Homo sapiens: one gene and its partner. The protein of the gene in region 1 purifies or fractionates together with the protein of each later gene. This does not show direct contact. Each region holds a gene or a part of one and is shown in the gene's direction. Other genes may lie near its edges.

Region 1 (5,874 bases):
ATTTAAGGTTTATGGTATTGCACTAAATACAATGAAAAATATGCGAGAACTGCGAGAGATCACTTTCTGCCATGATACACAACTTACTGGAGAGACGAATTGCTTAGACAGAGATAATTAGCATCACATGGCACTTTAAGTGGGTACTCACAGCAGTTATTGAGCTCACTACAATAGAAGATGGCTATGAAATTATTACAGTAGTACAGTATGTACTACAGTTGGTTTTATGCAGTTATTATTATACTGCATCTTTGCATTTGTTTACATTCTTCTGGACTGAATGATGCCATGTATGGTCTCTGTAAATTTTGATAATTTTAACTTTTAAAAATCTGTTTATATTTCATGGTAGTAAATGACAAAATAGACTAGTATGTGTATATTTCATGGTAGTAAATGATAAAATAGACTGGTATCTACATATATTTTATGTATTAATGACATACCTTTTTCTTAATTTTTTTGATGTTTCCAGGCTACATGGTTTGTCTGCAAGTTTTTTCCAATTGTTTCAAATTCAAATATATTTATTGAAAAAAATACACATATAATTGGACCTGTGTAGTTCAAACCTATGTTGTTAAAGGGTCAACTGTACTTTATATTTGAAATATGAAAGGAAAAACATTGCTACAAAGCATTTTACCTTTTTGTAAGTTTACTTTCTGCTGCACTACATAATTAAAGAGTTGACTTTTTAAAAGTATTTGCTGTTTACATACAGTATATTATTACTCTGTATTTGTATTAATTTAGCAAATTTTGTTGAATCCCTACTGTTTGCAAAGCATTGTGCTAAGTGTCAAAGATAAATACATAACAAGATATAATGATCCCTGTCCTCAAGAAATTTATAATCTTTATGTCACTGGAAATTAAAATGGAAAAATTACAAAACAAGGTGGTAAGTGTCTTAATGATGGGACATAGAGGAAAGAGTACCAGAATCTGCCTAGGCTTTCCTTGACAAAATTTAATCTTTAGATATCTGATTTTTCTTGACTACATATATCAGCAGCAGATTAAAGCGTGGTGAAATTACTCCCGCTTATAATTGTTCTACTTAAACTTGATCTAAATCAGTTTAGTCATGTTTTATTTACTGCCCAGATTAAGGGCTAATTGGGAAGAAATGTCTCTTTTTAAAAGCCCTGAAAAATAAACGACTCAAGTCAGTTTTTGACTAAGTTTTTCAAACTTATAAAACATTACCATGAATTGGTTTCTGTTCCAGTGTCTGGATATTGTTAGTTTAAAATTTTTTAGGTAAATGGGACACACTTTTAATCATCTTCGAAATTTCTTTTAATCATTTAGGTGCAGCCAGAATTATGATAGTTGGAATTTGAGTTGCATTTTTTTTTTTTTAAGGTTTCCTTTGGATCCTAAAAGAAGAAAAGAATGGGTTCGCCTGGTTAGGCGCAAAAATTTTGTGCCAGGAAAACACACTTTTCTTTGTTCAAAGCACTTTGAAGCCTCCTGTTTTGACCTAACAGGACAAACTCGACGACTTAAAATGGATGCTGTTCCAACCATTTTTGATTTTTGTACCCATATAAAGTCTATGGTAGGTAATGTTACTCTCCTTTTGTTAAAACCATTTTTAGAACTCATTCCTTTTTGTTTATGCAGTTATTAACTGAAATTCATTTATAGTGATATGCCTCAAAAAAGTTGCAGACCTTCCTCTTGTACAGTAAAGGTACAGGCTAGAATCAGAGTTTGGGTCTCCTGACTCCAATATTCTTTCCCCAATCCAAATTGTTTTACTATATTGGAATTTTACATTATTACCCATTATTATTAATAATTGCACCATTGGTAAAACTGAAAAATCATATGAGTAATGAAACCTCCAGCATCACTGTGCTCTGATTTTAAAATGACATACAAATAACATGTGCAAAGTACTTTAAGAGCACACAGCCAGAATTAAACCAAAGAATGTAAGTTCAGAGGGAGGCAGGCATGACAGAAATCTTCAGAGAGCTTGGGCATTCAGGGTGGGCTTTTGAAGCCTTGGGAGTTTAAAATAGAGGAAAGGGAACTTGGCTTTGCACAGAATAATTACAGTTGCATAATGAGAACAAAAACGAGTGGGTTGAGGCGTGAGTAGGAAATGTTAGCAAGTGATATTTAAAGGAAAGAATGAAGAAAAAATGAAGCAAAAAAAAGTAAATTAAAAAAAACGAAAGAATAAAGGTATAAGATGAATGAATTAAAACAATGTTTTATCTAGTTAGGGAAGATCTGACCAGAGAGGAAAACCTAGCTGGGAAAGACAGGGTCACCAAGAGTAAGAAAGGGTAAAATGAACACAAATAGTTTAGCTTTGAAAGGGAGGACAAACATGTTTTCCTCTGAGGAAAAACTACTGTTTCTCTTGTTTGTAACTGTTAAACTTTTAAATGTATATGAGTTATTATCTGAATGGAGACGAGGTTGTGGTAAGCTAATTACCACTGATGTTAGAAAAGCTCCAGGAGGACAAGAACTTAGTCTTTTTCACACGTGAATCCTCAGCACCTCAAACAGTGCCTGGGACATAGTATATACTCAAATACTTACTGAATTTGAAATACACCTTATTTTTGACATTTTGATAATTTATTTATTTAATAAATACAACTAAACTTTCCATTATGCCAGAATCTAAGCTCAGTGCTAGAGATACAAAGATCAAAAAAGAGTTCCTGTCAATTCCCTAGGCAGAGGGACTAACTGTAGGTTTCATGAGGATAGGAACCACATCATCTTATTTGTTCAGTGTTGTGTCCCCAGGAATGCATAGTATGTGTTTCAATAAATGTTTAATGAATTAAAGACACAGACTTATGAGGATATGATATAATCTGGAAACTCCCAGTGGCTTAGTATTGCTGGAGTATAAATCAAGATGGTAAATTGCAGAATGGGGTGAGATCCTAAATTGTATAGTATGCCATCTAAAGATTTATTTTTCCTTTAGATAATAGATAGGCAAAGAATAATTTGGCCAGAATGGAAAAGTCAAATATTCTAGAAAAATTATTCTTATGGCAGAATGTGGATTAATGAGGATCAAAATGAAGTGGAGAGATCAATAAAGAATAATATAGTCAGAACAGATATGATACGGGCCCAGTGTAAGTAGTGACATTAAGAATGACAGTGTTCAGCCTTATTGTGGAACAGAGAAAGGAAAAAAAAGAATGACGGAGAGGAGAGGATTCATGGTAGGAATATTTAGTGGGTAGAATTAATAGGACTTGATGACCATTTGAATGAAAGAGATAAAAGCAAAAAAAGTCTCCTGATTTTGGCAAATGTTCCTAGCCAGATTTTAAATCCTTGAAGATATAACCATCAAAAATTAATAGGTAAATCTGTTTAGAAGCTTGGTACTTAAGAATACATTTCTACAGATCCTTCAGTTTTCATTAAATAGGACCCTGGGTCTAAAATATTTATCAAATTGAGAAAAGGGTATTTAATTAAAAGGGGATCAAATTAATATCATAAATAATATCTACATATATTGTAAATTGACCTTAGTAAATTGCAAAGGATCTTTAAAGTCTCTATAGAGTCATAGTCAATAATTTGGAAGAAACCTTGGACGTCCATTGTCTATTTCCAAATCAGTGTTTGAATCTCTCTGGATATGGGACAAAAAGAAATAGGTGACTAGAGTTAATTCAACCAGTTAAAAAACTTAATCTTGGATTACATGAGATGGCTGCTGCTGTTTCCTATTAAAGTTTTAAAATTGACTTTTAAAAGAGCAGTTTAAATACTGTTATCCAAAACTGGACACTATGTGCTTATTTGTGATATTTCATAATTTATGTTCAACCCTCTAATTTTATTCGGCTCAGAAACTCAAGTCAAGGAATCTTTTGAAGAAAAACAACAGTTGTTCTCCAGCTGGACCATCTAATTTAAAATCAAACATTAGTAGTCAGCAAGTACTACTTGAACACAGCTATGCCTTTAGGAATCCTATGGAGGCAAAAAAGAGGATCATTAAACTGGAAAAAGAAATAGCAAGCTTAAGAAGAAAAATGAAAACTTGCCTACAAAAGGAACGCAGAGCAACTCGAAGATGGATCAAAGCCACGTGTTTGGTAAAGAATTTAGAAGCAAATAGTGTATTACCTAAAGGTACATCAGAACACATGTTACCAACTGCCTTAAGCAGTCTTCCTTTGGAAGATTTTAAGATCCTTGAACAAGATCAACAAGATAAAACACTGCTAAGTCTAAATCTAAAACAGACCAAGAGTACCTTCATTTAAATTTAGCTTGCACAGAGCTTGATGCCTATCCTTCATTCTTTTCAGAAGTAAAGATAATTATGGCACTTATGCCAAAATTCATTATTTAATAAAGTTTTACTTGAAGTAACATTACTGAATTTGTGAAGACTTGATTACAAAAGAATAAAAAACTTCATATGGAAATTTTATTTGAAAATGAGTGGAAGTGCCTTACATTAGAATTACGGACTTAAAAATTTTGCTAATAAATTGTGTGTTTGAAAGGTGTTTTTTGTTTTTGTCTTTTTAAACTACTGTTAAAAGAACAGCTTATGATAAGTAATATGTTTAACTTAGAGAAGAATTTTTTCCTGTACCAAAGTTGGCATATTGCATTCTAAATAAGATGCTAAATAAGAGTTAACCAACATTCAACATGACCTTAAAACTGCTGGGTTTTGTATTAATTAAATTATAATTGGCACTGTGATTTGAAAAATTTATAGAAAAAAAGGTACAGGGCAAGTTTTTAAATTAAAACTTTCTATATTTTGTTTTACCAGTAAAAGTGAGCTTATCATGGCCTCTCTCATAAGAATGATTTTAAAATAGGTTGTAAAATATTTTGAAAATATTTGAATGTGAAGTACCATTGAGTCATCCAAACTAGGTAAGGCCTCAAGTACTTTAAACTAGTAAAATCTAGTAGCTGATAATATTCACCTAAGTAAGTGTTGTAAAATAATTCAGAGTTCAGGACCTAGCTTAGATAAATGTATACTACTCTTTTTCTCATAATAAAAATCTTACATTTCCAACTTCAAAATTGGTGCTTCCATATTTGTTGATAACCAAAACTCCTAAGGTTTTTTGTTTTCTTTTTAACTACTTTCCAAATGCATACTATACCTCAGAAATAGTGTATCAATATAGTGGGCTTTTTTTTTCCTCTTCATAAACCCACAGTAAAATTTAATCACAGGAAACTACTTATATCTTCACACTTTGTATTGATAACTTAAAATGGCATCAGTTTATCTTAGACATCAGCTTGCTTTTTATCTCCTTTTTTAGTGAGTGAAATAGAGCAACTAGCATGCCTGTGTTCCCAGCTACTTGGGAGGCTAAGGTGGGAAGATCAATTGAACCTAGGAGGTTGAGGCTATAGTGAGCTGTGATTGCACGACTGCACTCCAGCCTGGGCAATGGAGTGAGACTCCTGTCTCTAAAACAGCAACAACAAAAATAAAGCAACCATAGTGCATAAGGGAAATTAAATGTTCCCTATAGAAATATGTGTATGTCTGTGATAGTGGTATGCAAATGCTAATTATTTTATAAAATAAAAGTTCAGAACTATTCTTATCATTGCCACTTGAACAATTAAAGGGTTTGCTTTATTTCACTAATGTTTAATAGGAACCCTTTGCTTCAAACAGCTTTGTTGAAATCATGTAAAAATTTGTTAATAGAGAATCAAGTTATTTAACTCAACTTATTTAATTCAAGCTTGTGATACTAACATACAAAGGTAGCATAAACCAAGTCATAAATTGCTGTAATCTTTCCTGTAAAGTAATAGCTACTTCATGATTTTTTTAAAAATTTCATTTTTTTGCTATTTAGGATTGCA
Region 2 (3,500 bases), on another chromosome or scaffold:
AACACATTTTCTTAAAAGGTTGATGGAAAGTTATTATGCTGGCTCTGTACTTTATCGTACAAAAGAGTTTTACAGAAGACGAAAGAACAAAGGAAGAGCCTGGGATCTTCACATTCAAATTCATCTTCTTCATCTCTTACTGAGAAAGACCAGCATCATCCAAAACATCATCACCACCATCATCACCATCACCATCGTCACAGCAGTAGCCATCACAAGTAAGTACTTTGAAATCATATTTTCTAAAACTCTTCCTTGCATTTTAATGCCATTTATTGATGTTTACTTCTTGCAAATATTGACTATGTGCTAGTCTAGTTTCCATTGTACACAGTAAGCATCTTGAGTGTCTAAGGCTGTGTCTCCATTTTATTCAGTGTAGAATGTTATATACATGAAATATGTTGAGCTGTTTACCATAATACAGATATTTAGGAAAATCTATAAAATTATAACCATGTAAAGTCAAAATACAAGTACGTCAGTTAATTAACACTTAAATAACTTATCAAAAGCCTCAGTATTCTTTTTTTGTTTAAATAATTGTTAAGGTTTTATTTGAAAAATTATATTTTAGTTGTCAATTTGTTTTAGTAAAAACAAATCGAAACAAACCAATGACTGGGTTTGGAGAACATATTTTAATACTATAATTTGTTACTATGATAGAAGCATTTCTGATCTTTGTGGTCCCCAAAATATGAGCAATATTTTTAACTAATGATACTTTGTGTTTTTTTCAAACATATATTTAGGAACTCTACTTAAATAGAGACAACTGTAGTTTTCCCTCAGTATGCTTGAGGGATTGGTTCTAGAACCCCCTCATAGACCAAAATTTGCATATACTCCAGTTCTGCAATTGACCCTGTGGAACCTGCCTATAGGAAAAGTTGGCCTTCTATATATGCAGGTTTCACATCCTCCAAATACTGTATTTTTGATCCGTATTTGGTTGGGAAAAAAAAATTCTCCTATAGGTGGTCCCATACATTTCAAACCTGGGTTGTTCAAGGGTCAGCTGTACTTGATTTTTAAAGTGACCTGTGGGGGGAGTTATGTAGTAGTAGTAGTACCTTAACCCTTGATGTGTGTGGTATAAAGATTTTTTAAAATGCAATTTTAGTCTTCACGGAAAAATCAAGAACATGAAAATACAAATTAAACTGACAAACACAAATTAAAATGGAAAAAACGGACATATGGCATGCCCATTTTCAGAATAATTTATTGTTTGTTCTTAAATTTTTCTGTGAGTCTTTAAAGTTTCAGATAGTTATTTAAAACAGAATTTACAAACAACTGATGCCCACCTCATTTTGGAACACATGCAGTATTTTTAGAATGTAATGTAGTTCTGTCTAATTAGTAAGATTTGTTGTAAACTGTATCCAATCACCTATTAGATTATGAGGTTACGTTGAGGTTAGTGATGTTTAATTCTACCATGTTGTAGTGTTTTCTAAATGTGGCAGTGGTAGACTACAATGCAGTGTCTTCTCTTCTGGCTGTTTTGAAGAAACCTTGTGATCTTTATATCAGAGTATTTCAAGAAGCAAAATAATATAAGTCTACCTTGTTTTTGCTTCTTGCTTTAAGAAAAAATATGACAAAATGACTATATACCATAATAGCATATGTCAGACCTACTTCTAAGACTCCCAAAATGTCTCCTTTCCCTATTCTTTACAGATAAATTTGTCTTAGCATGATGTAAAAGGACACAATCAGATTATGTTTGTGAAGACTAAAGTATGTGACAGCAACTTAATTTTTTGAAAGAATGACAGGTTTCAAAAATAAAGGGAAAGAGAACAGTATTGAAAATGAAAGTCTTCAATTTTTTTACTTCTGGTTACTTATGAAATACAAACACTATTTTCTATTTGATGGCTGTTGACCATTTGATGAACAGTTACTTTGTAGGGTCCTATCTTAAGTTCAATAGATCAGAATGAAAATGAGGAGCATTCATATTGTGATAGATAGTGATCGGCAGGGGTAGGGGATGTGGTTGCCAGGTGGCACTAAGGTGGGTCTGAATCTAGGAATGGACAACCCTCAGAAAGATAAGATGGGAATTCCAAGTGTTTCTGTCAGTGATATTAATGTGATTATTCTTAACTTTGAGATATGGTTAGTGCTGTTAGTTCATGTATGGCTTGTTAGGCTTATAATGAAATTTGTGGGAAAAAAAAAAAAGGGACAACTGCATTCCTCAATAGGATTTCCATTCATTCACAAGTAAGAATAACTCACTTGATGGAATTATTGCTATTAACATTTTTTTCCCAACTTGGTACTTGTTTACAGCTGAGTCTTAAGGTTTGTTTTTTTCTTTTGCTTAAAAAACTTCTACAGCTGAACCAATAGTAAATTTTAGACACAAGTAAACATGTATATATATATATGTCTATTTTGTATATGCTAGCACTGTACTAAGTGATTTTACATATATAACTCATTTAATGCTCATATCAGTATAAGGTATGTATTACATATGAGGGAACTAAGGCTGGGGATGTTAAGTAATTTGCATAAGGTCACAGCTCAGGTATTCTAACATCTTCTAAATCGTATAAATACGTGGCATCTGGTTCATAGGAGATGCTCTCTACATGCTGAGTGAATAAGCTAGGGTTAGTGAAGCATTGACTGATATGCAAGTTTAGGAGGAAAAAAATGAAGGATTCATGATGAATTATAAAGTGATTATTAGTATTAGGGTAAAATAGAAAAGGAGTATTACAGTATTAATTATGAGTAAAAGTAAAATAATTTGTTACTATGAAATTTCTCAATAGTTTCAGCGTAACTTCTCCAGAATACTAACTAAAGAGAGCTCTATGGACTTTGGAGAGGATTCTTAAGAAAACTAGGAAAGAATCAAAGAAATCAATATATTTCCCCATTTAAATTGAAATACTATTCTGAGCAACTTGAGTTACTCCAAAAGAAGAATCTCTACTTCAGATTATTAGGAAAGCCTTAACTTTAAAGATACAAATTTTGTGTCTGAAATAGTAAGGGCAGCCAAAGTACAGTGATACCTAGACACAAGCACGAAAACTACTTGTGTAACCCACCCTTTGTATGATATTAAATTGAACTGTGGAGATCCTGATTATAAAGAATTCTTGAAGAACTTGAGATGGTTAGCAGTCATTTTATTAAAATTTATTTCATCAGAATGTGATTTATTCAATATGTATTAGCTTAGTCTGAAAACTTAAATATACCTTTCTCTGAAGAAAATATTATAAACATAAAATTTGTATCCATTGAGAAAGAATGTTAAATTTAGATGTATTAAATAAATAAATGTCATTATTAGATGTCATTTGTGTATTTTTCAGAATCAGCAATCTAAGTCCAGAAGAAGAGCAGGGACTGTGGAAACAGAGGTAAATACATTGCTGTATTTTCTGAAGTATTTTGAAATGTATATTTATAAATGTGATATCCCTTCAACTTTGTTACTTAAGTCTTACCAAAATCAG

What was found.
Region 2: the proteins of THAP2 (region 1) and FAM76B purify together in Homo sapiens (affinity purification with mass spectrometry; one large-scale study listed by BioGRID and IntAct). This does not show direct contact.

Annotation. Positions count from the first base shown.
Region 1 is NC_000012.12:71,672,829-71,678,702, forward strand, and holds part of THAP2 (THAP domain-containing protein 2), read left to right. Parts: intron 1-1,374; coding exon 1,375-1,570; intron 1,571-3,860; coding exon 3,861-4,280; 3' UTR 4,281-5,874.
Region 2 is NC_000011.10:95,779,783-95,783,282, reverse strand, and holds part of FAM76B (protein FAM76B), read left to right. Parts: intron 1-18; coding exon 19-218; intron 219-3,334; coding exon of another isoform or gene 3,335-3,356; coding exon 3,357-3,404; intron 3,405-3,500. UniProt on the Homo sapiens protein: Negatively regulates the NF-kappa-B-mediated inflammatory pathway by preventing the translocation of HNRNPA2B1 from the nucleus to the cytoplasm.